Linked DNA regions of Homo sapiens. The protein of the gene in region 2 purifies or fractionates together with the protein of the main gene of each other region. This does not show direct contact. Each region holds a gene or a part of one and is shown on either strand. Other genes may lie near its edges. The genes, in order: IVNS1ABP, PDCD10, CNN2, PPME1, HABP4, RNFT1 and PPP2R1B.

Evidence for each region.
Region 1: the proteins of PDCD10 (region 2) and IVNS1ABP fractionate together in Homo sapiens (co-fractionation; one large-scale study listed by BioGRID). This does not show direct contact.
Region 3: the proteins of PDCD10 (region 2) and CNN2 fractionate together in Homo sapiens (co-fractionation; one large-scale study listed by BioGRID). This does not show direct contact.
Region 4: the proteins of PDCD10 (region 2) and PPME1 fractionate together in Homo sapiens (co-fractionation; one large-scale study listed by BioGRID). This does not show direct contact.
Region 5: the proteins of PDCD10 (region 2) and HABP4 purify together in Homo sapiens (affinity purification with mass spectrometry; one large-scale study listed by BioGRID and IntAct). This does not show direct contact.
Region 6: the proteins of PDCD10 (region 2) and RNFT1 purify together in Homo sapiens (affinity purification with western blotting, with the first as the bait; one study listed by BioGRID). This does not show direct contact.
Region 7: the proteins of PDCD10 (region 2) and PPP2R1B purify together in Homo sapiens (affinity purification with mass spectrometry; one large-scale study listed by BioGRID and IntAct). This does not show direct contact.

Annotation. Positions count from the first base shown.
Region 1 is NC_000001.11:185,307,244-185,310,743, reverse strand, and holds part of IVNS1ABP (influenza virus NS1A-binding protein), read left to right. Parts: intron 1-1,232; 5' UTR 1,233-1,250; coding exon 1,251-1,361; intron 1,362-1,571; coding exon 1,572-1,741; intron 1,742-1,868; coding exon 1,869-1,944; intron 1,945-3,081; coding exon 3,082-3,255; intron 3,256-3,500. UniProt on the Homo sapiens protein: Involved in many cell functions, including pre-mRNA splicing, the aryl hydrocarbon receptor (AHR) pathway, F-actin organization and protein ubiquitination.
Region 2 is NC_000003.12:167,696,893-167,700,392, reverse strand, and holds part of PDCD10 (programmed cell death protein 10), read left to right. Parts: intron 1-3,266; coding exon 3,267-3,384; intron 3,385-3,500. UniProt on the Homo sapiens protein: Promotes cell proliferation. Modulates apoptotic pathways. Increases mitogen-activated protein kinase activity and STK26 activity. Important for cell migration, and for normal structure and assembly of the Golgi complex.
Region 3 is NC_000019.10:1,033,108-1,036,607, forward strand, and holds part of CNN2 (calponin-2), read left to right. Parts: intron 1-2,959; coding exon of another isoform or gene 2,960-3,022; coding exon 3,023-3,139; intron 3,140-3,308; coding exon 3,309-3,455; intron 3,456-3,500. UniProt on the Homo sapiens protein: Thin filament-associated protein that is implicated in the regulation and modulation of smooth muscle contraction. It is capable of binding to actin, calmodulin and tropomyosin. The interaction of calponin with actin inhibits the actomyosin Mg-ATPase activity.
Region 4 is NC_000011.10:74,244,289-74,247,788, forward strand, and holds part of PPME1 (protein phosphatase methylesterase 1), read left to right. Parts: exon of another isoform or gene 1-1,207; intron 1,208-1,745; coding exon of another isoform or gene 1,746-1,787; coding exon 1,788-1,917; intron 1,918-2,790; coding exon 2,791-2,835; intron 2,836-3,500. UniProt on the Homo sapiens protein: Demethylates proteins that have been reversibly carboxymethylated. Demethylates PPP2CB (in vitro) and PPP2CA. Binding to PPP2CA displaces the manganese ion and inactivates the enzyme.
Region 5 is NC_000009.12:96,481,169-96,484,668, forward strand, and holds part of HABP4 (intracellular hyaluronan-binding protein 4), read left to right. Parts: intron 1-3,293; coding exon 3,294-3,465; coding exon of another isoform or gene 3,466-3,489; exon of another isoform or gene 3,490-3,491; intron 3,492-3,500. UniProt on the Homo sapiens protein: Ribosome-binding protein that promotes ribosome hibernation, a process during which ribosomes are stabilized in an inactive state and preserved from proteasomal degradation.
Region 6 is NC_000017.11:59,954,741-59,958,240, forward strand, and holds part of RNFT1 (E3 ubiquitin-protein ligase RNFT1), read right to left. Parts: intron 2,643-3,500; coding exon 2,484-2,642; intron 1,814-2,483; coding exon 1,748-1,813; intron 1-1,747. UniProt on the Homo sapiens protein: E3 ubiquitin-protein ligase that acts in the endoplasmic reticulum (ER)-associated degradation (ERAD) pathway, which targets misfolded proteins that accumulate in the endoplasmic reticulum (ER) for ubiquitination and subsequent proteasome-mediated degradation.
Region 7 is NC_000011.10:111,759,890-111,763,389, forward strand, and holds part of PPP2R1B (serine/threonine-protein phosphatase 2A 65 kDa regulatory subunit A beta isoform), read right to left. Parts: intron 1,163-3,500; coding exon 930-1,162; intron 63-929; coding exon 1-62. UniProt on the Homo sapiens protein: The PR65 subunit of protein phosphatase 2A serves as a scaffolding molecule to coordinate the assembly of the catalytic subunit and a variable regulatory B subunit.

The DNA.
Region 1 (3,500 bases), on a different chromosome or scaffold from region 2:
ACCACCATGACTGCCTAATTTTTACATTTTTTGTAGAGACAGGATTTCACTATGTTTCCCAGACTGGTCTCAAACTCCTGGGCTCAAGCAATCTTCTTGCCTTGGCCTCCCTATTACTGTTCTTTATTTTATTTTATTTTTTTAAGATGGAGTCTCTCTGTTGCCCAGGCTGGAGTACAGTGGCACAATCTCAGCTGACTGCAACCTTTGCCTCCCAAGCAATTCTCCTGCCTCAGCCCCCACAAGTAGCTGGGATTACAGGCGCCCGCCACCATGCCTGGCTAAATTTTGTATTTTTAGTAGAGATAGGGTTTCACCATGTTGGCCAGGCTGGTCTTGAACTCCTGACCTCAAATGATCCACCTGTCTCGGCCTCCCAAAGTGCTGGGATTACAGGTGTGAGCCATAGCGCCCAGCCTATCACTGTTTTTTAATTATGCATTTTGTGTAGTCATTAGTCAGTTGTTTATAAGTAATGGTAAAATGCAAAAAAGTTGTAAGTTCCCATTTATATTTATATAATCTGATGAGATAAGTGATTTAGAATATATGAAAGAAAGGAACAGAATATAAGTTCATCTTTTTAAATCACTGTATATGTTTCAAAACATTTATAAAAATAATTTCGTAGATACAGTGACAAGACTAATCAGACTTTTTAAGTTTGTGTACTAGGCAAGGGAGGAAGACATTAGGCAATTTTCTGCATATAAATCTTGATTATATATAATTTTGAAGACTAGAAGCAAATTGGGGGCCCTTTAAGACAACTGAAAAAGGCTAGGATTAGGATAAGTAACAGTTTTTCTCATTTGTGGGTAAAGGAATGACAGGAGCCCAAATCCAAGGAAACCTATATGTACTGGCTATTTCACCCTTTCAGGCTTTTAGATTACTTATTATATGGGTTTGGGCAGGATGGAGTTTCGTTTCCTTCCCTTCCCTTCCCTTCAGAATGAATTTGCTTAATGGGCATGGGAACCTGGCCAAAATTGTCGAGATAGCTGCTACTGTTTGAATCCTTTAAAAGTCTTATGACCAAAGTATTAGGGAACAAAGACTTGGACATTCAACACAGGTGTTGTTTCAGCTAAGTTTTTGTGTGATGAAATTTTTATGTGTTGTTTATAGGATGGAATTTGAGAATAAAGAGACTGTATTACTCTTTAGCATTATATTTTTAAAACCATCAGTTGCAAGTAAAATAACTCAGCTTTCTTTTCATCATCTAGCCAAATTTATAAGGAAAAATGATTCCCAATGGATATTTGATGTTTGAGGATGAAAATTTTATTGAGTCTTCTGTTGCCAAATTAAATGCCCTGAGGAAAAGTGGCCAGTTCTGTGATGTTCGACTTCAGGTATTTAAAACTTAATTCAAAATTTATAGAATTTTTTATTACTAAAAGCCATAAGTTCTTAGATTTGCTTATTTCTTTTTCATAGGCATTTAATGAAATGATTTTTTAAAAGAATACTGAGAAATGTAAGATAAAGGAATCTGATATAGTAATTAGCTAGAGAAGCACATAATCCACAATACTTATAATTATAATTCTTCATAATTTCAGGTCTGTGGCCATGAAATGTTAGCACACAGAGCAGTGCTAGCTTGCTGCAGTCCCTATTTATTTGAAATCTTTAATAGTGATAGTGATCCTCATGGAATTTCTCACGTTAAATTTGATGATCTCAATCCAGAAGCTGTTGAAGTCTTGTTGAATTATGCCTACACTGCTCAGTAAGTACATTTGAAGTAAACCATATAATTAGGGAATATCTTCAGAAAATTCCAAGTCTTGCTACATATATTTAAATTAAGTGTGTTTTAAGGCTTTGGTATCATAAGTAACTTTTTTTTTAAATAGGTTGAAAGCAGATAAGGAATTGGTAAAAGATGTTTATTCTGCAGCAAAAAAGCTGAAGATGGATCGAGTAAAGCAGGTAGAGTATCAGAAGTAAATAAAATCATTTATGGAGTCTTATTTTGTGTGATTGCAATGCTGAATTTGTCATAAAACATCTTGTTAGTTTCAAGGACTTGAACATGTCCCTTTTTTCCCTCAGAGTAGTCAATATGTTATTTTAACTGTTTGGCTATAATAATGTAGCAAGATCACACTTCTTCTCAGATAATTTGGGCTGAAGTCTGACCCTTTCAGCAATCTTCTCTGGTAGGGTGGCTATGTCAGCCTTTGATAGCATGAATTAAAATTAATATTTTTCTTAAGAGTTAATCACATAACTTATATCCTCAATTCTGTGTTCTCCTAAACTTCCTGTGCTCTCTAAAAGTATTCCTTCTAGAATTTAATGCCAGTAAAAAGTACTTTTGGAAAACAGGCATTTAATCCCCTAATGCATGGGGGTCAGTAAACTTAAGGCCTACTGGCCAGCTGCCTATTTTTATAAAGTTTTATTCAAACACAGCCATGTGTGTTCATTTACATATGGTCTACACTGCTTTCCAGCTACAGTGACGGAATTGAGCAGTTGTGACAAACAGAATGGCCTACAAGCCTAAAATGCTTTTACTATCTGGCCCTTTAAGAAAAAGTTTGATTTGCTAGCCCTTCTTCTAATACCACTCCTTTGTTCAAAAATCCTTCCTTAATTTACAGTACATATCCCTGCATTTAGTTTCTAGATTTTCCCTTATATAGTTGCTGTCTTTCCAAAACTATTTCCTAGTTATCTTTTCTCCAACCAAATTAAATTGTTTGCAGCATCTTCTCTACTTCTGTCTGCATTCAACATCAACATCATCTCTCCTGTAGAGCCCAGTTCAGATACTGCGTTTCATGAAGCCTTACCAAATTATTCTACTTGAAAATACTTATGTGAACTTACATAGCATTTCAATTTGTTGTACCTCTCCTTAAACTAAAACTTACATATCTGTATGGCATAATTAGATGTTTATCATTTGTATACGTGTTATTACCACTATTAACATTTGTTGTATTAAGACAGTGATTTTTGATTCTTTGTATCTTCACATAGTCTTTACCACACTGAACATTAAATATTTGTTGAATAAAAGATATGTAAGTGTTGGCACTCATATATTTCTTTTCCAAGGTTTGTGGTGATTATTTACTGTCTAGAATGGATGTTACCAGCTGCATCTCTTACCGAAATTTTGCAAGTTGTATGGGAGACTCCCGTTTGTTGAATAAGGTTGATGCTTATATTCAGGAGCATTTGTTACAAATTTCTGAAGAGGAGGAGTTTCTTAAGCTTCCAAGGCTAAAGGTAAGGAGTAAAGTCTATAAACAGATATATACTATCTAGTTCCAGGCGTGGAATCTTGGTCTGTGTTTCAAGCAAGTGAGTAATGATTATGAAATAATACATTGAAATTATATTGTTATTCTTAGCAGCGTAATGGGTTTCTCCCTACCAGTTTGTTTACTTTGTTTTTGATTCAGTAATCAAATTCCTTACAAATTCCTGGTTCCTTACAAATTCCTGGTTCCTTACAAATTAGAGTAAATGTA
Region 2 (3,500 bases):
CAACATCACTAGTGGCACTTTGTCGGGTCCCATGGTATTATCCCATGTTTAAAGTATTGCACTAAACACGATGAGAAAAATATGTGAGGGCTGGGAGGTATTACTTTGTACTGGGATGTGCAGTTTGCTGGAGAGATGAACTGTTCACATGGAGTTGATTAGAGTCACATGGCGTTTTAATCATATACTTACTAATACTTGAACTGACTGCAATAGCAACAGGAGGTGGCTTCAAACTTATTACATATACACGTGTACTACAGTTAATTTTGTGCAGTTATGATTTAATATTGCATCTGTATATTTGTTTATATTTCTTTTAACTGCAAATAACACCATGTACAGTCTGTTTGCGTGTGAGTTTTGATAAATTTTAACTTTTTAATAATTTGTATCTATTTTATAGTAAATACTAAAATAGACTAGTGGATAACTATATTTTATGCATTCATAACATGTGTTTTTATTATTTTTTTCACTACTTATAGGCTACTCAGTTTGTCTATAAGTTTTTTCAAATTGTTGCTGATCTCCAAAAATTTTTCCTATATATTTATTGAAAAGTATCTGCATGTAAATGGACCTGAGCAGTTAAAACCAGTTCTTCAAGGGTCAGCTATATTCTACTTGATTCCCTCTCCCCCTTATCCTCTATGAGAGGTTCCGATAGGTTGTCCGTCTTCCAGACTGAGAATCACTGATCCACAAGAGTGTATGTTGCTGCCCTTCGGTTTATTTTTTTCTTACAGCTGGATTCTTTACAAAGATTAGACACCCTACAGGGTTCATGTTGTATTCTGAGGGAAAACCTAAGAGTTGTAGATTGTCTCCCTGATTTAAGACCATATTTATTCATTTTGTCAGTCAGAGCCATTTGGTAAATTCAAGCTTTTGAAATAAGAATTAGCTTAACCAGGTTTTTAGCCAGGAGGTACTGAGACTACTCCTTCCAAACTATGTACTGAGGTACCTGGTGGCCCATAGCAAATTCAGAGGGGTGCCACGAAGTATTTTAAAATTGTGAAGGTGTACAGTGATACTCAACATCTGTTTGACACTGCATGGACTCCTAGCTTGAGATGGATTGCAATTTAGCATATTGGATTGTCCTTCACTGCTTTCATTGGTGTTAGATCATTGAGAAGCTGGACTTTTTGGCCAGTGCTATGATCTAACAGAAGTACCAGAAAAAAATATATCTGCAAGAGGAAATGAGAGGGGCAAGGTCCAATCTAAGACCAATGTTTGAGAAATTATGAAGTGCCCAGTAGGCACACACATCCCAGTAATAAGTGACAATAGTTATTTAAGAACAGAGTAAAAATTGTTTTTTTCAATTTATGTGTATTATTTTTTTAAAGGCTAGGTAGTTAGGACACTATACTTATTAAGTTGTTTAGACCTAAGTATTTAATAAACAGCACTGTGAGGTGTATCTTTTGGCACTAAGGACACTGAAAACTGAGAAAGTTAGGGACCTTTGTGAGACTTTTGTAATGCTCTAGCTTTAGCATTTTGGGGTCCCAGACCAGCTTGGTATTGAAAACTTTATTCTCAGACTTTCAGCATTTTAACCTTTCAGTACTTTATTATAACTTAATCAGAGATATGCTTTTCTTTTTCTGTCCCCTGCAAGCACATAGAGAATGTTCCCCCTCTCCCCAAGATAATTCATTATGTAGGAAGATTTATTGCTAGATAAGATAAAGTATTGTTACTGAATGCTACATTATATGTAATTTTGTGGCAGTTCACCGCATTAATGCTATAACAACACATCTTAAGCCATATTTGGACATCTTATAAAGGAAACTCCTTTTTTAAAAAACACAGTTTTTTTTGTTTTGTTTTGTTTTTAATACGAGGTCTTATTCTGTATCATAGGCTGGAGTGCAGTGGCATGATCATAGCTCGCTGCAGCCACGAACTCCTGGGCTCAAGCAGTCCTCCCATCTCAACCTACCAAGTAGCTGGGACCACAGCCACACCCCACCATGCCTGGCTAAAAAGTAGATTCTTTTTAAAATATATATCCATGGAAGGAAAAGTCAACATAGGCTGTAAAAGAAACAGGATTCAGTCAAACACAGTTTATTGTTATTAATCATCTATCAAAATGATTTTCCTGAATAGTATCTGACAGCATTTAAAATGATCCGAAGATTGGAATAAATGCGTGTATTTTCTTTTCTCATTTCATCCCACAACCCTTCAGTTTTTGATACTTGAGATCTAATGAGAAACAAGATGTTATAATGGAAAGAGCAATAGGAAGAGAAGAAAACTGTATCTGCAGTGATAATCAATGGAATTGAAGAGGCGGAGGTTAAGTGTGCTTGACACATAAGGAAACAAAAAGATTGCCATCTGATTAAGATCGTAAATTGTGTTTCTATTTTGCTGTTTAATATTAGGGCAAAAAGGAAAGAAAATCATCAGCATAATGATTAAAATTGGCAGGCATCCTACAGGAAACAAACATCAAGTGTGATTACAGAATTTACTGGGAAAAACTGAAATCTGAAGATTAACTCTGGCTTTGGTAAACTCAGAACTCTATGCCCAGTCTTGAAATGGCTAGAAAATTTTAGTGTCTTGGGGAGTCTAAGTAACATAGAACCAATGCAAACTCAATGAAACAAGCTCAAAAGGTAGTAAAAGGTTTCATGATGTTCTAGAAACCAGTGAAGGAAATATTCTTGCTACAAAAATAAAATAGGAAATGAAAATCATTGTGTGGGAAAATAGTTAAGGTATTATTATATAGGTTCAGTAAAACCTTCAAAATAAATCCTTTTTTGTTTTTCCTGGCATTCTCTTAATATAAATGGAAAGAATATGCAAAACACTAGTCAGATGAGTTATTGCTTGATCCTTGAGTTGCAGTATTAGCACATTAAAAAAAGCTTAAATTCTCAAGATATTTAAAGTAATGAGAATAGCAATTGATAGATTACTAAAACATATATAATCCTTAATTCTATCTTTGTTATTAGTTCAATTGCAAAAGAGTATAAAGAAGAGTAGAAAATACTAAGTTCTTTCTGTTCAAATGGAAAATGGAACCTTAGTCATAGTAAAGAGTCGGGTGCACAAGCTCTAACAAAGCCTTAGTGAATGCTATCATGACACCTGCTTTACAAAGATTTCTGCCCTTAAAAGTTATCAGTGTAAGACGCTCCCAACAGATTCTAAACAATTAAACTTTGGCTTTAAAATGTTGATTCCTTATCTGTATTTCAAAACTAGTTTTCTCTTTATTATAGGCTGAAAAAGAAAATCCAGGTCTCACACAAGACATCATTATGAAAATTTTAGAGAAAAAAAGCGTGGAAGTTAACTTCACGGAGTCCCTTCTTCGTATGGCAGCTGATGATGTAGAAGGTAACGGACAGAAGAACCTTGTTTAAGTTATACAATTGTTAAATAGCACTTCCTCTAAATCATTATTATTTGACCAAAGGATCTTCCTTCCCTACTGTTTTCCCTCCCTCCCTTTC
Region 3 (3,500 bases), on a different chromosome or scaffold from region 2:
AGGTGCCAGGTACTTCAGATTCCTTGGTGAACAGGAAGGACATGGTCTACCCCTTATGCAGTTCAGTCTGATGGCGGAGGCATGCAAAAGTGAACACAGCATTGTATTATGCATTATATGTAAGCTCTGGCCGGGCGCAGTGGCTCACACCTGTAATCCCAGCACTTTGGGAGGCCGAGGTTGGAGAATTGCTTGACACCAGGAGTTCGAGACCAGCCTGGCCAACATGGTGAAACCCCATCTCTACTAAGAAAACAAAAATTACCTGGGCGTGGTGGTGCATGCCTGTAATCCCAGCTACTCGGGAGGCTGAGCCCAGGAGTTAAGAGGTTGCAGTGAGCTATGACCACACCACTGCTCTCCAGCCTGGGCAACAGAGCAAGACTCTCTCAAAAAATAATCATAACAAAAGTAATAAATAAGCTCTGAACTGGGAGAAATGCCTTGAAGGAGAAGAATCAGACGAATGTTGAGTGTCTAGTGATCTTCAAACCCAGACCGGGAGCGTGGGTGGGACAGTGGTGTAGACCGGGAGCGTGGGTGGGACAGTGTCTGGTGTAGACCGGGAGCGTGGGTGGGACACGGTGTCTGGTGTAGACCGGGAGCGTGGGTGGGACACGGTGTCTGGTGTAGACGGGGAGCGTGGGTGGGACGGTGTCTGGTGTAGACCGGGAGCGTGGGTGGGACACGGTGTCTGGTGTAGACGGGGAGCGTGGGTGGGACGGTGTCTGGTGTAGACCGGCAGCGTGGGTGGGACACGGTGTCTGGTGTAGACCGGGAGCGTGGGTGGGACGGTGTCTGGTGTAGACCGGGAGCGTGGGTGGGACACGGTGTCTGGTGTAGACGGGGAGCGTGGGTGGGACGGTGTCTGGTGTAGACCGGCAGCGTGGGTGGGACACGGTGTCTGGTGTAGACGGGGAGCGTGGGTGGGACGGTGTCTGGTGTAGACCGGGAGCGTGGGTGGGACACGGTGTCTGGTGTAGACCGGGAGCGTGGGTGGGACGGTGTCTGGTGTAGACCGGGAGCGTGGGTGGGACACATTGTCTGGTGTAGACCGGGAGCGTGGGTGGGACGGTGTCTGGTGTAGACCGGGAGCGTGGGTGGGACACGGTGTCTGGTGTAGACGGTAAGCGTGGGTGGGACACGGTGTCTGGTGTAGACCGGGAGCGTGGGTGGGACGGTGTCTGGTGTAGACCGGGAGCGTGGGTGGGACACGGTGTCTGGTGTAGACCGGGAGCGTGGGTGGGACACGGTGTCTGGTGTAGACCGGGAGCGTGGGTGGGACGGTGTCTGGTGTAGACCGGGAGCGTGGGTGGGACACGGTGTCTGGTGTAGACGGGGAGCGTGGGTGGGACGGTGTCTGGTGTAGACCGGCAGCGTGGGTGGGACACGGTGTCTGGTGTAGACCGGGAGCGTGGGTGGGACGGTGTCTGGTGTAGACCGGCAGCGTGGGTGGGACACGGTGTCTGGTGTAGACGGGGAGCGTGGGTGGGACGGTGTCTGGTGTAGACCGGCAGCGTGGGTGGGACACGGTGTCTGGTGTAGACGGGGAGCGTGGGTGGGACGGTGTCTGGTGTAGACCGGGAGCGTGGGTGGGACACGGTGTCTGGTGTAGACCGGGAGCGTGGGTGGGACGGTGTCTGGTGTAGACCGGGAGCGTGGGTGGGACACATTGTCTGGTGTAGACCGGGAGCGTGGGTGGGACGGTGTCTGGTGTAGACCGGGAGCATGGGTGGGACACGGTGTCTGGTGTAGACGGTAAGCGTGGGTGGGACACGGTGTCTGGTGTAGACCGGGAGCGTGGGTGGGACGGTGTCTGGTGTAGACCGGGAGCGTGGGTGGGACACGGTGTCTGGTGTAGACCGGGAGCGTGGGTGGGACGGTGTCTGGTGTAGACCGGGAGCGTGGGTGGGACACGGTGTCTGGTGTAGACCGGGAGCGTGGGTGGGACGGTGTCTGGTGTATACCGGGAGCGTGGGTGGGACACGGTGTCTGGTGTAGACGGGGAGCGTGGGTGGGACACGGTGTCTGGTGTAGACGGGGAGCGTGGGTGGGACGGTGTCTGGTGTAGACGGGGAGCGTGGGTGGGACACGGTGTCTGGTGTAGACCGGGAGCGTGGGTGGGACACGGTGTCTGGTGTAGAATGGAATGGGAGTGTGTGTTTGTGACATGGTGTCTCACGTAGAAGGAACAGCAAGGTCTTGACATTGGAATTGGCTGGGCTGTTAGAGGAAGCGGGAGCTGGTTTTCTCCTGGGGTAACTGCTCCAAATGGTGTTTTCAGATGCCCCCTGTGGCTCCCAGTAACCTCACGTGGGGAATGGTGGTCAGGGAGGAGCCGGGCGCAGACATCCCAGTGAGGGGCAGAGCCAATGGCCTGGCCATGGTGCCCGGGGATTGGGTCAGAGGAGGTGGTGGAAGGTGAGAGAGAGGAAGCGAAAACCACGTCCCCATCCCCAGAATTCTTGGCCTGAGCCCTGGAAAGCTGAGCTGTTGCCTAAGACAAGGCACGCTGGGATGAAGCAGCCCCATGGGCTGGGCGCGGTGGCTCACGCCTGTAATCCCAGCACTTTTGGAGGTTGAGGCGGGTGGATAACTTGAGGCCAGGAGTTCAAGACCAGCCTGGCAACATGGTGAAACCCCGTCTCTACTAAAAATACAAAAATTAGCCTGGCGTGGTGGCACACGCCTGTAATCCTAGCTACTTGGGAGGCTGAGGCAGGAGAATTGCTTGAACCTGGGAGGAGGGGGTTGCAGTGAGCGGAGATCACACCACTGCACTCCAGCCTGGGTGACAGAGCCAGACTCCATCTCAAAAATAAAAATAAAAAACTGAAACAGCTGTATGATGGGTGTGTGGAGTGTGTGGAGTCCCAGACACCCGAGAGATGTGCCTGTGGGGGCTCTGCGCGGCAGGCAGAGGTGACAGGCCGCGGCCTGGTCTCTGTCCCGCCCCCAGGGCCTAGATCTAGGGTCCCTGGCTGCCCTCTGCTGGTACTCCCGGCCCCTTTCCCTCACCCAGGCCAAGACTAAGGGGCTGCAGAGCGGGGTGGACATTGGCGTCAAGTACTCGGAGAAGCAGGAGCGGAATTTCGACGATGCCACCATGAAGGCTGGCCAGTGCGTCATCGGGCTGCAGGTGGGCGACAGCTCCCCCAGCCCCAGGGACCACGGCATTGGGGGACCACGGTGTTGGGGGACAGCAGCATTGGGGGACAGCGGCATGGAGCCCTGTGGTCCCTCAATTTCAGGGAGGGACCGGAAGCTTGTTGGGTGCAGTCTGACCTCTCCCACGAACCTCCCTGCAGATGGGCACCAACAAATGCGCCAGCCAGTCGGGCATGACTGCCTACGGCACGAGAAGGCATCTCTATGACCCCAAGAACCATATCCTGCCCCCCATGGACCACTCGACCATCAGCCTCCAGATGGGCACGAACAAGTGTGCCAGCCAGGTGGGGCTCGCCCGGGTGCCCCCGACTCCTCTCCCTGCCCCTCTA
Region 4 (3,500 bases), on a different chromosome or scaffold from region 2:
AGTGGGATTCCTGGATCATACAGTAGTTCTGTTTTTAATATTTTGAGGAACTGCCTTGATGTTTTTCTTATTGGTTGAACTATTTTACAACTCAGTACACAAGGGTTCCTTCCGAATTCTCCACATCCTCACCAACACTTATTTTTCTCTTTTTTGATAGTAGTCATCCTAATGGGGGTGAGGTGGTATCTCATTGTGGTGTTGCTGTGCATTTATTTATTGATTAGTGATGTTAAGCATCGTTTCATATGCTTATTGGCCACTTCTGTATCACCTCTAGAGAAATGTCTATTCAAGCCCTTTGACCATTTTTTAATCAGGTTACTCGATGTTTTTAGTTGCTGAATTGTAGGAGTCCTTTATATATTCTGAATATTAATCCATTATAAGATATATGATTTGCAAAGATTTTCTCCCATTCCATACACATAGTACCATTTGTCTATTTTTGCTTTTGTTCACTGCTTTTTGGTGTCATATCCAAGAAATCATTACCAAGTCTACTGTCCAGCTTTTCCTCCATGTTTTCTTCTAGGAGTTTTATAGTCTTAGTCTTACTAGGTCTTTAATCCATTTGAGTTAATTTTTGGATATGGGATAAGGCCCCAGCTTCACTTTGGAATATGCATATCTGTTTGGTTATCCCAGTACTGTTTGTTGAAGAGACTGTTCTTTCCCCATTGAGTGGTCTTGGCAGTCTTGTCAAAAATCATTTGACTATTTATGTGAAGGTTTATTTTTGGGCTCTCTATTCTATTCCACTGGTCTATTTGTCTTTACGGCAGTACTAAGCTGTTTCAATTACTGCAGCTTTGTAATTGGGGAGTGTGAGTTCTCCAATTTTGTTCTTCTTCAAAATTGTTTTGGCTAGTCAGTGTCTATGAGATTCCATATGAATTTTAAGGTGATTTTTTTTATTTCCTAAAAAAAAAAGCCATGGGAATTTTGATAGAGATTATATTGAATCTGTGGATTACTTTGGGTAGTATGGACATCTTAAGCATCCAGTGATCTTTAAGATAATATGTTACTATCTCATGTTCACTTTTAGATTTTCATATTGTGGTTGATTCAGTATATTTATTTCAATTATAATGTTTCAAATATTTCAATGGTACAGAAAAATATAGAGAATTATTTATTTTTTCAGCCAATATTTGATTGCATACTCTGTGCTTATCTACAATAAAGATTTAATAAATGTTGACATTTTGTCATATTTGTCTCATATTTCCTTTCAAAATTACTATTGCAGGAACATTATATCATTATCATAAAATATAAGAAAAAATGCTCTACTGACAAATCAACCTATTTTCAGTTTTCCTTTTTAGTACTTTACTATACCACATTTTTCCAGTAGTAATCCTAACTTAGATGACATGTTGTAATCTGTTTCTTGCTTATATTATAAGCATTTTTTCATACTGCAGTATGTTCTTTGTAGTTATTCTTTTGATGAAACATCCTTTTGCCAACCAAGTATAAGAAAGGCTTAATCTTGGCACTACCACTTACTAGCTTTGTGATCTTAAGAAAGTTTCCTAAATTCACAGAAACTAATAGCAATAAAAAGTAAACTTGTAATTATCTTAAAATGAATATTAACAGTGACCCATACAACAAGACTGTTGGAAGGATTGAATGTATATTAAAATGTCTAGGACTTAGTAGGTCCTTAATAAGTGCTAGTTTCCTTCCCTTTCCTTTTCCCAGGGATCTAGTTTTTAATCCTGTTCCTCCAGGGGTTGCCCTCGGAGACTCAGAACTTGCTCTTATTCCTCCAGACCAAGAAAGACCATCCATACACCTGGAGAATTGAACTGGCAAAAACAGAAAAATACTGGGACGGCTGGTTCCGAGGCTTATCCAATCTCTTTCTTAGTTGTCCCATTCCTAAATTGCTGCTCTTGGCTGGTAAGTGTATATGTGCATATATTAGTCAGCTCAGGCTGCCATAACCAAATATCATAGACTGAGTGGCTTAAACAACAGAAATTTATTTTCTCACAGTTCTGGAGGCTGGAAGTCTGAGATCAGGGTGCCAGCATGGTCAGGTTGTGGTGAGGGCTGTCTTCCTGGCTTGCCTTCTCTCTGTGCCCTCACATGGCCGAGAAAGAGTGAATGTGAGCTCTCTGGTGTCTCTTCTCTTAAGGATATTAATTAGGGACGTTCATCCTATCATGTCAGAGCTCTGCCCTCATGACCTGAGGTTACGTCCTTATAGGCCCTAGTTCCAAATACAGTCACATTGGGAATTGGGGCTTCAACATGAGTTTTAGGGGGACACAACTCAGTCCATAGCAGTGTTGGTATATTGTCATCTCAATATGACCTCATTAAAACTTCTCACCAAATGAGTAGTGACATCCAAAGTAGAGTACCTTCCTCATTCATCTATGCCTTTTCTCCTCCCCACACCCAGTCTCTAAACCTAACTAAGCATAAGCATTCATCTAAGCATAAAGGATGACCTAATTCTGGCCTGGCCTGTCTACTTGGTCAAGCTCAAGTCCTTCTTAGTCTAGAGCTAGATGCAGTGGTATAAGGATATTCTGATTATTATGAGAATTAAAATAGTAAAACCTTGTTTTCAGAACCAGTTTAACATAGTAATTATAGGGGAATCTCAACCTGAAAAGTTTTATCTGGTGGTGAGAGTATGCTCTGGGAGTTAGGATTGGTATAAACATGAATGGAGAATGTCATCATATTTAAAACTTTGTAACACTTTTTACTTAATACGTGAACAGCAAAATCTGTTTCACAATGAATTCTCTTGTTTTCTAGGTGTTGATAGATTGGATAAAGATCTGACCATTGGCCAGATGCAAGGTAAGTTATCAAGAAATTATACCCCTGGACCCTTTTCTGAAGAAAGGGTGATAGGGCAGTTAACATCCTGAGATAGTGAGGTATAACGGAGAAAGCATGAGCTTTAGAGTCCGACCCAAGTTGGACATCCGCCTCTACTCCTAACACACTATATGATTATGGGCAAGTATTTCCCTTTCCTGAGCTTTAATTTGTTTAAAAAAAAATCCATCCAAAAATGAAGATTATAATACTACTACCTATGTCTCAGTTATAAGAGTTAAAATGAGGCAATGTGTTTAAAAATTATAAAGTACTGTATAGGTGTATGATACTGTGAAAAGAGATATTCTGACTACTGATCAGTTTTTTGTTTGTGGGTTTTTTTTTTTTTTTTTTTTTTGAATTGGAGTCTCACTCTGTTGCCCAGGCTGGAGTGCGGTGGGACCAATCTCGGCTCACTGCAACCTCTACCTCCCAGGTTGAAGCAGTTCCGGGCCTCACCCACCCCAGTAGTGGGATTACAGGCATGCACCACCACGCCCAGCTAATTTTTGTATTTTTAGTAGAGATGGAGTTTCACCATTTTGGCCAGGCTGGTCTCAAGCTCCTGACCTCAAGTGATCCACCTGCCTTGGCCTCCCAGAGTGCGAAGATTATAGGTGTGAGCCACTGCAGCTGGCCAG
Region 5 (3,500 bases), on a different chromosome or scaffold from region 2:
CCGCCTCCCGGGTTCAAGCAATTCTCCTGCTTCAGCCTCCCGAGTAGCTGGGATTACAGGGATTACAGGCGTGTGCCACCACACCCAGCTAATTTTTGTATTTTTAGTAGAGACGGGGTTTCACCATGTTGGTCAGGCTGGTCTTGAACACCTGACCTCATGATCCACCTGCCTCGGCCTCCCAAAGTGCTGGGATTATAGGTGTGAGCCACCGCGCCCGGCCTGTTTTTTCCCCTTAAACACTTTTGAGATATAATTCTCGTACTATAGCACTCAAATCTCTAAGTATATAGGCCAGGTGTGGTGGTTCAGATCTGTAATCCCAACACTTTGGGAGGCAGAGGCAGGAGGATAGCTTGAGGCCAGGAGTTCAAGACCAGCATGGGCTACATGGAGAGACCCCGTCTCTACAAAATGGTTGTAAAAATTAGCTGGGCCTGATGGCTCGTACCTGTAGTCCCAGCTACTCTCAGGAAGCTGAGGTGGGAGGATCCTTGGGCTCAGGAGGTTGAAGGTATGGTGAGCCATCATCATGCCACTGTACTCCAGCCTGGCCAACAGAGTGAAACCCAGCCTGTATCAAACAAATAAATGAGTAAACGACTGAATGCATGGATGGATGGTTTGGGGTATGTTACATTATTAATTTTTTAAAATTGCAGTAAAAATAACATAAAAATTGCCATTTTTACCATTTTAATATATATAATTTAATGGCATCAGTAACATTCATATTGTGTGTAACCATCACCACCATCCATCTCTAGAACTTTTTTTTTTTTTTTGAGATGGAATCTCACTCTGTTGTCCAGGCTGGAGTGCAGTGGTGCGATCTCGGCTCACTGCAACCTCCACCTCCCGGGTTCAAGCGATTCTCCTGCCTCAGCCTCCTGAGTAGCTGGGACTACAGGCACATTCCACTACACCCGGCTAATTTTTCTGGTATTTTTTAGTAGAGACGGGGTTTCACCGTATTGGCCAGGCTGGTCTCGAACTCCTGACCTCATGATCCGCCTGCCTCAGCCTCCCAAAGTGCTAGGATTACAGGCTTGAGCCACTGTGCCTGGCCTTGTAGAACTTTTTCATCACAAACAGAAACTCTATATCCATTTAACACTAACTCCCCATTTCTCCTCAGCATGTAGTAATCTCTATTTTACTCGTGTTTATGAATTTGCCTATTCTAGGTGCCTCATCTAAGTGGAATCGTTCAATGTTCCTTTTGCACCTGGCTTATTTTAACTATTAGCATCAAGTTTTCAGCTTCATTCATGTTGTAGCATGTGCCAGTCTTCATTTCTGTTTTTCTTTTTTTGTGTGTATTTTTGTGATGATTTTCAAATCTACGATTTTAATCCTTTTAAAGTGTACAATTCAGTGGCATTTAGTACATTCAGAGTGTTATGCAACCATCACCATGATCTGGCTCCAGAAGGTTGTTATCATCCCAAAAGGAAACCCCATGCCCATTCAGCAGTCACTCCCTATCCTCCCTCCCTGCAGCCCTGGCCACCACTGACCTGCCTCCTGTCTGTGTGAATCTGGCTCCTCTGAATATTTCATGTAAATGGAATCATACACAGAAGTCTTTTCTGCCTGGTTTATTTCACTTGCATCATTTTTTCAAGGTTTGTTCATGTCGTAATGTGTATTAATACTTTGTTTCTTTTTATTGCCAGATAATATTCCAAAAAATGTGCCATATTTGGTTTATCCACTCATTAGTTAATAGACATTTAGGTTGTGTCCACTTTTTGGCTATTATGAATAGCACTGCAGTGAACACTTGGGTTTAAGTTTTCATGTGGATGTGTGTTTTCATTTCTCTTGGGTATAAACCCAGGAGTGAAATTTCCGGGTCAGAGGCTAACTCAGCTTAGATTTTTGAGGAACCGCCAGACTGCTTTCCAAAGAGGCTACACCATTTCACATTCCCACTGGCAGTGTATGTGGGTTCCAGTTTCTCCACATCCTCCCCAACGCTTGTCAAATGTCGTTTTGGTTCTAACCATCCCACTGGGTGTGGACTGGTGCAGCTCTGTGGTTTTGACTTGTCTTTCTCTAATAGCTAATGATGTGCAACATCTTACTGCCTATTTGTATATCTTCTCTGGAAAAATGTTCACTCAGATCCTTGCCTTTTTTGGGGGGAGGGTGGTCATTTGTCTCAACTAAAGAGGACTTGTATCTAGAATTCATAAAGCATTCTTTTTTTTTTTTTTAAAGAGACAGTGTCTCATTCTGTTGCCCAAGGTGGAACACAGTGGCCATTCACACGTGTGATCATAGCTCACTGCAGCCTCAGATGCCTGGCCTCAAGCGATCCTCCCACCTCAGCCCCCTGAGTAGCTAGGACTATCGGCATGAGCCACCACGCTTGGCTGTTCATAAAGAATTCTTTATGTATTCTAGATACAAGTCCCTTGTGAGATATATTATTTGTAAATATTTTATCCCATTTTGTGGACTGTCTTTTTACTTTCTTGATGGTGTCCTTTGTAGTATAAAAGTATCTGATGATGTTCAATGTATGTACTTTTGTTGCTTGTTTTTTTGGTGTCATGTGGAAGAAACCATTGCCCAGTCCAGGGTTAAGAAAGTTTCTGCCTAGGTTTTCTGCTAAGAGTTTTATATTTTAGCTCTTGTATTTATGGTGTGAGGTAGGTCTAACTTCATTCTTTCTTTTGGTGTGTGTGGATATCCAGTTGCCCAAGCACCGTTTGTTGAAAATACTTTTCATTCTCCATTGAATTGTCTTTGGCACCACGGTTGGAAAAAAAAAATCAGTTGACCGTAAATGTGAGGGTTTATTTCTGGACTCTGAATTCTTTGCTCTCAATCTATATTTCTGTCTTTTGTTTTCTTTTTAAAACTCATTAAAGAGGATATTTGCAAAAGTATGCATTCATGAGCCACTGCTTTAAAACTTGTTTATGGTTTCCTGTATTTTATTTCAACCCATTGTCCATAATTACCTCATTTTGTCTGTCATGCTGTCTGGAAGGGAGTGCCAGTGGTGAAGTGTGATGTTAATGTCATCAGGATGGTGATGTTCCCATTTTTCAAAGATTGATTTGAACACAGATAGGAAGTATCTTCTGTTGGCAGTGATGACATAAAATGTTGAAAATGAAATATGGAAGCTTGTGAGTCAAAGATTTCCTTACCTTATTTGCATTTGAAATGCAGTACCACAAAAATATGTTGAATTAATGGTTATAACTTTTTCTTTATAAAGTAGACATTTTAGTACCATCAAAAAGTATTCTTTATGATTATATATCTCTTTATAGAGTTCCTGAGTTGGAGGTAGAAGAAGAAACCCAAGTTCAAGAGATGACTTTAGATGAGTGGAAAAATCTTCAAGAACAGACCAGACCAAAGCCTGAGTTTAACATCCGGAAACCAGAATCCACTGTTCCTTCCAAAGCCGTGGTGATTCACAAGTCAAAATACAGAGATGATGTAAGCATTGCATTTCGTATGTAGAGGTAATCTTT
Region 6 (3,500 bases), on a different chromosome or scaffold from region 2:
AAATTATTCGAAATTATAAAAAGCATTTAGTGCTAAACATAAAAAAGTTTTACGGAGAAACTGCAACTGTAAATGTCGCTTTGGTAGAATAACTACTGTCAAAACTAACTGAACAAAAATGCAATTATTTGAATTTTCTTCTCTTCTAATGTCCTAATAACAAGTTACTCGTCTCTAAGATTTTAACCTCCTCACCAGATTCAGAACTTAGTCATTAACTAGATGTGATGTCAATAACCCTCAGTGAAATTTGGAGAAATCAAAATGTTACAAATGAAACCTGCTTTCTGTAGAAATGATGGGGAAGAGGTAACTAAAGAGATGTAAGAACACCCAAGTCAGTCACGGTCATGAGGGTAAAGCATGACTTAACATAGCTGAAGTTATCTAAACTTCTTGTACTAAAACGTCTCAGGCTAACAACATCAAAATCAAAGTAAAACTCAAAGGATAAAGATATTAAAAATTGAGGTTTTTTGAAACTGGTAATAAAGATTTCAGAAATAAGTCAGGATACTGTTAGATGATCTTGGTGTCAATTTCCCTTCAGTAAGGTGTCATTTAGCAAAGTACATTTGCAGATAATTATGCTGACAAGCTTTTAAGACGTTACTCATCTGGCATCTTGGAGACTCCCTCTCCAGATAGTAACTGCCATTTCCCTGGTAAAGGAGACTTGAACAAATCCAAGTATTGATGACTGATATCCTCTCTGTAGTTTGTCTCAGAGAAAGAATATCAGGGTATTTTCTTGAGAGTATTTCGGCACAAATCTTACAAGACCAATTATAGTAAAATGGTTGATGCTCACATAATCATCAGTTGAACTGACTTGGACAAAGCTGAACTCTCTGAATTTTATTATGTCTTGTCTAGAGAAACAAGCTTGCATAGGATGTAGCAAAGTTTGTTTCTACATTGCTAACTCTATCTTAGGGAAAAGGCCCTGGCCAGTTAGTCTCGTTTACTTTGTAGACATAATTCTTTTTTTATTTTTACGGTATATTATTCGGTTGGCATTCTTTTAAGTCAGTCTCCTTGGGCCCTGATGAAATGACTGCAAAATTGAGAATCAAACCCTGAAGTCTGCTGACCACACATAGGTACTAGGAACCTTTCAGGCTACTAAGTGGTAAATTAGGGTTCTCTATGACATCCTTTCACTGCAATTTGCAACATCAATAGAATCACACAATAATGTTATAAATGACACCAGAGACTCAATTAATTGTTAAATTTCATGCCATGAACGTATTTATGCACATATAATTGAGCAATGGGGAAATCTGCTCCAGTAAGAAAACTGCAAGAGACATGATTTTTGGCAGTGAGCTTTCTAAACAATAAATTACAATGGAAGGATTTTCACAGGTGAATAAGGAGTTAATAGGAACAAACAAAGCCCCCATTTGTGGATTAAAAAAGAGGAACACAATTTCATAAGATTGTTAAGGGTTTACAAGCCTTAAAAATGTCCAGTGGATTGAAGAGGCAAGAGACAAGTTCAAATATATAAGCACTGCAACAATTAGCAGGTGGTTGTCAATGTGTGATTCAAGAATCTGATCACAGAGATAAAACTCCTAAATTATTATAGCCCCAAGTGCCAAAGTACTAGAAAATAATCAAAGTAAAAGAAAAGGATCATCTATTTATGAAATCCATTCTTGTAAAACTGCTGAACTAAAAAAATTTTTGCAGTGAAGAAAGGTGAAGGTGTTTTTCTTAACTGATAAAAAGTACTTACTGGTTGTGTAAAAAATATTCGTAAAACCTGTCTGAAAGTTCTCAGATGCCCAAAAAATTCCAAAAGCTGAAAAGAGAAATAAGAGATCATTTATTAATTCAAACAGTCCTATTTGCTAAACCCAAAAACCAAAGCTGAAATCCCATAACATCAAATCCTCATATTAACTTAATGTTCATTATATGTCACATCTAATCATTTTGTGCTGAGTATTTTATTCAATTTATAGATTTGAGCCATCTCAGCAAGCTGAAGTACATTTAAACACCTAGAGTAACAATTTGATCAAGACAAATACAACTATGTCAAAGTCAAAGCAATTTTATCTGATTCACCTGTTTTTAACATTTAGATTTTAAAGTTTCATAAAGTGATTATTAGGTTGAGGGGTGCAGGCATGGAGAGAACAGGACAAGATACTCTACTAGTTTAAGAATTATGTGTATGACAATGTTACTGTTGAGGATGGGTATGTTCTATTCCACTTGTTTTCCCTACTTAGATAATCCACGCTATGTGAAGGTCGACTCCCCTTCCCTCCAGTGAAACCTGAGGACCGCTGGATTAAGATAGTCTATTTCCGTTTCTCCATTTCTAAACAAATATAGAACCTGCTATTACTTCAAACTAGTGATATGAAGATAAACTATAAAACTGTTAAAAGAGGAAAACAGTAGTATGTATCAGTAATCATTAATGTGAATCATGCAGTGACAAGATTTGTAATGTTACCTACTTTTAATATGAGGTAGAGTAAAGCCAGCAGTATCCCAAGACTCCATCTAGTTACGTTACCAAACTCCCCATAGCTTATAAGGTAGCGAAACCAAACTGGTATGGGAACAAAAGTTCGGTAGTATTGACACAATTCTTCTAAAAGCATATACCAGTAACCCTAAAAAATAAGAAGAAAACAAATAGAGCTACCCAAACTACTTAACTACATAGCACAAACAATATTAGACTGAGAACACTGAGTATATTATACAATAATATAAATAACTATAAAATTAATCTTCATAATGATTATGACTGAACCTCAAGCTGGTTCTCACATATTACAGTCACTGAGTGGCCTGCTTTGAAAGAATTTCTAGGTTGGACGCAGTGGCTCCCAGCACTTTGGGATGGGCAGATCACCTGAGGTCAGGAGTTCGAGACCAGCTGGCCAACATGGTGAAACCCCGTCTCTACTAAAAATACAAAAATTAACTGGGTGTGGTGGTGGGCACCTGTAATCCCAGCTACTCAGGAGGCTGAGGCAGGAGAACTGCCTGAACCCAGGAGGCGGAGGTTGCAGTGAGCCAAGATCACACCACTGCACTCCAGCCTGGGCAACAGAGCGAGAGACAATCTCAAAACAAAACAAAACCAAAAAAAAAGATACAATGAGAATGTTTTATGTATACTGCAAGTAAAACCTATGTGAGTATGTTTTTGCTGATTATAAGAATTTAAAAGTTTTTAGTGCATATGGGAAACCACTGAATAATTGTACATAGTCAACTGTCAATTGATAATGCCCTGGAGAACAGAAGTACACATCTAAATAGTTTCCCACATATGATGTGGGGACTGATTTTAAAATTATTCTGAAGCAAATATAATTCTGATTTTATCCAAATAGGTTAATAATCAGGTTCAAGTGCCTGAACAAATGGTTGCTAAGCTGAAATAATACAGATAATTAAGCTAGTTAGCAAACTGAAAAACTGCAAAAGGAGGATTCATTTAAACAAAGACTAAATAGCAT
Region 7 (3,500 bases), on a different chromosome or scaffold from region 2:
ATTTGGAAGCAGCAGCACGTCGTACCATTGGTGTGTCATCTGAGCACAAGGAACGGAATTGCCTGCAACATAAAACAATGAAGGTATTTCCCATCAAATAACACTGAATAAACCTGCCCCCCATACACACAGACAGACTTTTAGAGGTTTTATCTTACAATAATCAGTGACTAAGCTTCTACTTATAGAAGTAACAAAAATAAAACATATTCAACTGGATAATAAAAAATGACATCATAGGCCAGGCATGGTGCCTCACACCTGTAATCAAAGCACTTTGGGAGGCCCAGGTAGGAGGACTGCTTGAGGCCAGGAATTGAAAGCAGACTGGGCAACATAGCAAGACCCTATCTATATGCCAAAAATATTTTTGTTGTTGTTTGTCGGGGGCTCAAGTGAACTCCCACCTCAGCCTTCTGAGTAGCTAGAAATACAGGCGGGTCCCACCATGCCCAGCTAATTTTTTTCTTTTTAGTAGAGACAAGGTCTCACTATGTTGCTCAAGCTGGTCTTGAACTCCTGAGTTCAAGCAATCCTCCCACCTCAGCCTCTCAAAGTGCTGGGATTACAAGCATGAGCCACTGCATCCAGCCAGAAATTTTTTTTAAAAATTAGCCAGGCGCAGTAGTGTATGTCGGTAGTCCTAGCTACTTGGAGGCTGAGGCTGGAGGATCACTTAAGCACAAGAGTTCAAGGTTGCAGTGAGCTATGATTGTGCCACCGCACTCCAGCCTAGACAACAGAGCAAGACCTTATCTCTTAAAAAAAAAAAAGAAAGATGTCATAAATCCTACTATCCTAGTATCAGCCACTCATTGGTAACAAGGTACTATGTAAATTGTCAGCTACAAGTCCCCAGTAATCCCAAATAACTCATAGCTTACTACCTGATTTCTGCTTTAACAAGGCAAAAAAATACCATGGCTTACTGTCTGATTTCTGCTTTAACAGCATTTGATGCCCTGGGATAGCAAACGCTGAACAAACCACATGCAGATGTGCGAGAGGTGAACCAATCCCCACTTGCTAAGCGTTTCACCAGAGGTACAAAATAAGCTTCCAGAGCAACAGGAGTATGCTCCTGGGAGATCTGTCTCAGGGACTCCACAGCCTTGTCACGAACAACAGTCTCTTCCACAGTTGCCAGATTTTCCAAAGGAGGCTGAATGGATTAAAAAGGAAAACCAGAGAAGAAAACTTATTGAATCAGGTTAGAAACAGATAATCACCTTTTAAAGTGACTGAAGGGAGGTGGTACACGTAACCAGAATGTTAGCTGCATCATACCAAATGGTTACTTTCAGCTCACACAGTGATAACATATGGTGCGGCCAACCCAAAGACACGACTTCTGTAGAAAAGCCAAGATCTCGTGTCCCAGATGGCAATTCCCAGATGGTGTCTACAAATGACACAGTGTAAAAGACTTGACACAATATTAATATTACTGTGAGTTGAATCACTAGGTTTAAAAGATACATAGCCAAATTCAGACAGGATCATGTATATTTCCTCAAGAGTAAGTACAAAACTATGACCAATGTTAGGCACCACAAATACAGGATAACAGCTTGTCAGGTCACTGAGTCCACAGCCTTTTCAGTATCTTTCCACCATTCCCAGAGGTGCAAGCAACCCTTATCCACCATCTCCATCCCATCCTTTTATCCAACCTATAAAATGCTGAATGCAAAATTGCTTTTTTCAGAACACATTCAGCAACTTTCCATTAGCCATAGGGCAGAAAGGAGTTTCTGACAGAACAATCAAGTGAAAACTACAGAGACTGGCCAGGCACGGTGGCTCACACCTGTAATCCCAGCCGTCGGGAGGCCGAGGTGGGCAGATCACTTGAGGTCAGGAGCTCGAGACCAGCCTGGCCAACATGGTGGAACCCTGTCTCTACAAAAAATACAAAAATTAGCCAGACATGGTGGCACACGCCTGTAAACCCAGCTTACTCAGGAGGCTGAGGCATGAGAATCACTTGAACCCGGGAGGCAGAGGTTGCAGTGAGCCGAGATTGTGCCACTGTACTTGAGCCTGGGTGACAGAGTGAGGCTCTTGTCTCAAAAAAAAAAGGTAAAGTACAGAGATGGTAGGACACCTTGCTTACAGCTTTAGAAATAAAAGAAGCCAAATGGGGTGGATGGTCTGGATTAAGAGCAGTAACTGAATATGGCATGGCCTAGTAAAAAGTGTAAACAGGCTGGCTCTCTGAACCTCTGCCTTACTGAGTTTGCATGTAGTCCAGGTAGATTCTACACATGCCATGAGCTACAGATTTTAAAGCATAAAACCCACATATAGAACTAACCAAGAGTGAAACAGAAGCATAATGAGTTAAAGAAAAGAAGTGTGTCTAATAATATATTTTAAAAATTGTTTGATACACACAGGTAGACAGTATTCAGCTTTCCTAGAAGGTATTTCAGAAACTCATTGAAAAGATACTGTTTCTCACTTGCCAATGCATTTCATGATCTGTCCCCTGCCTACTGTAACCCCCTCTCGTGCAGTACCACTGGATAATAGCTATCATTACTACAGGATGAGGCCATGCTCCTGAGAATTGCTTATGAGTGGTCTCTTGATTTGAACTCTGCCTGGCCCTTGATGACCACTCTGCCTACCCAGCCTCAACACTTCACACTCCAGCAGTTCTTTTTTTTTTTTTTTTTTAAGAGACAGGGTCTTGCTCTGTTGCCCAGGCTGAAGTGCAGTGGCACAATCATGGCTCAGTGCGGCCTCAGACTCCTCGTCCTTCTGCCTCAGCGTCCCGAATAGCTAGGACTCAGACACATGACATCATGCCCAGCTATTTTTTTTTAAGTGTTGGGGTCTCACTATGTTGCCCAGGCTGATCTTGAACTCCTGGCCTCAAGCAATCCTCCTGCTGCTTTGGCCTCCCAAGGCAAGGATTACAGGTGTGAGCCACCACACCCAGCCACACTCCGGCAGTTTTGAACCCAGCCTGTTTCATGCTTCCAAGCCTCTGAAACTCATTTTTTCAATACATTATTATTGGTATATTCTAGCATTGAGGACACAGAAGAAACAAGGCAGACAAGGTTCCTCACTCTAGTGGCATTTACATTCTAATGGAGTAAGACAACAATCAATCAAGAAAATAAGTAGATGGTGATGAGTACTCTATAGAAAAAAGGAGTAGGATGATGTAGTAAGGGATGACTGTGAGGCTATTTTAAGTTGAGTGGTTGGGGAAAACCTCCCTGAGGAGATGCATTGAAGTTGATCCCTGAATGACAAGGAGCCAGCCACAGAAAGCTTGAAAGAGCTTTTCATTAGAGGGAAGACCTAGGGCAAAGGTCCTAAGGGAATAATGAGCTTGGTTAGTTCAAAAAACAGAAAGATGACCAATGTGAATGGAAGAGGTTATCAAGGCCTTTTGCAGTCTGTTCCCTGCCTACTGTCACCTCTTCTCATGCAGTACCACTGGGCATATGATAATCCTACAGAGGCGGGTCATAAAAAGCCTT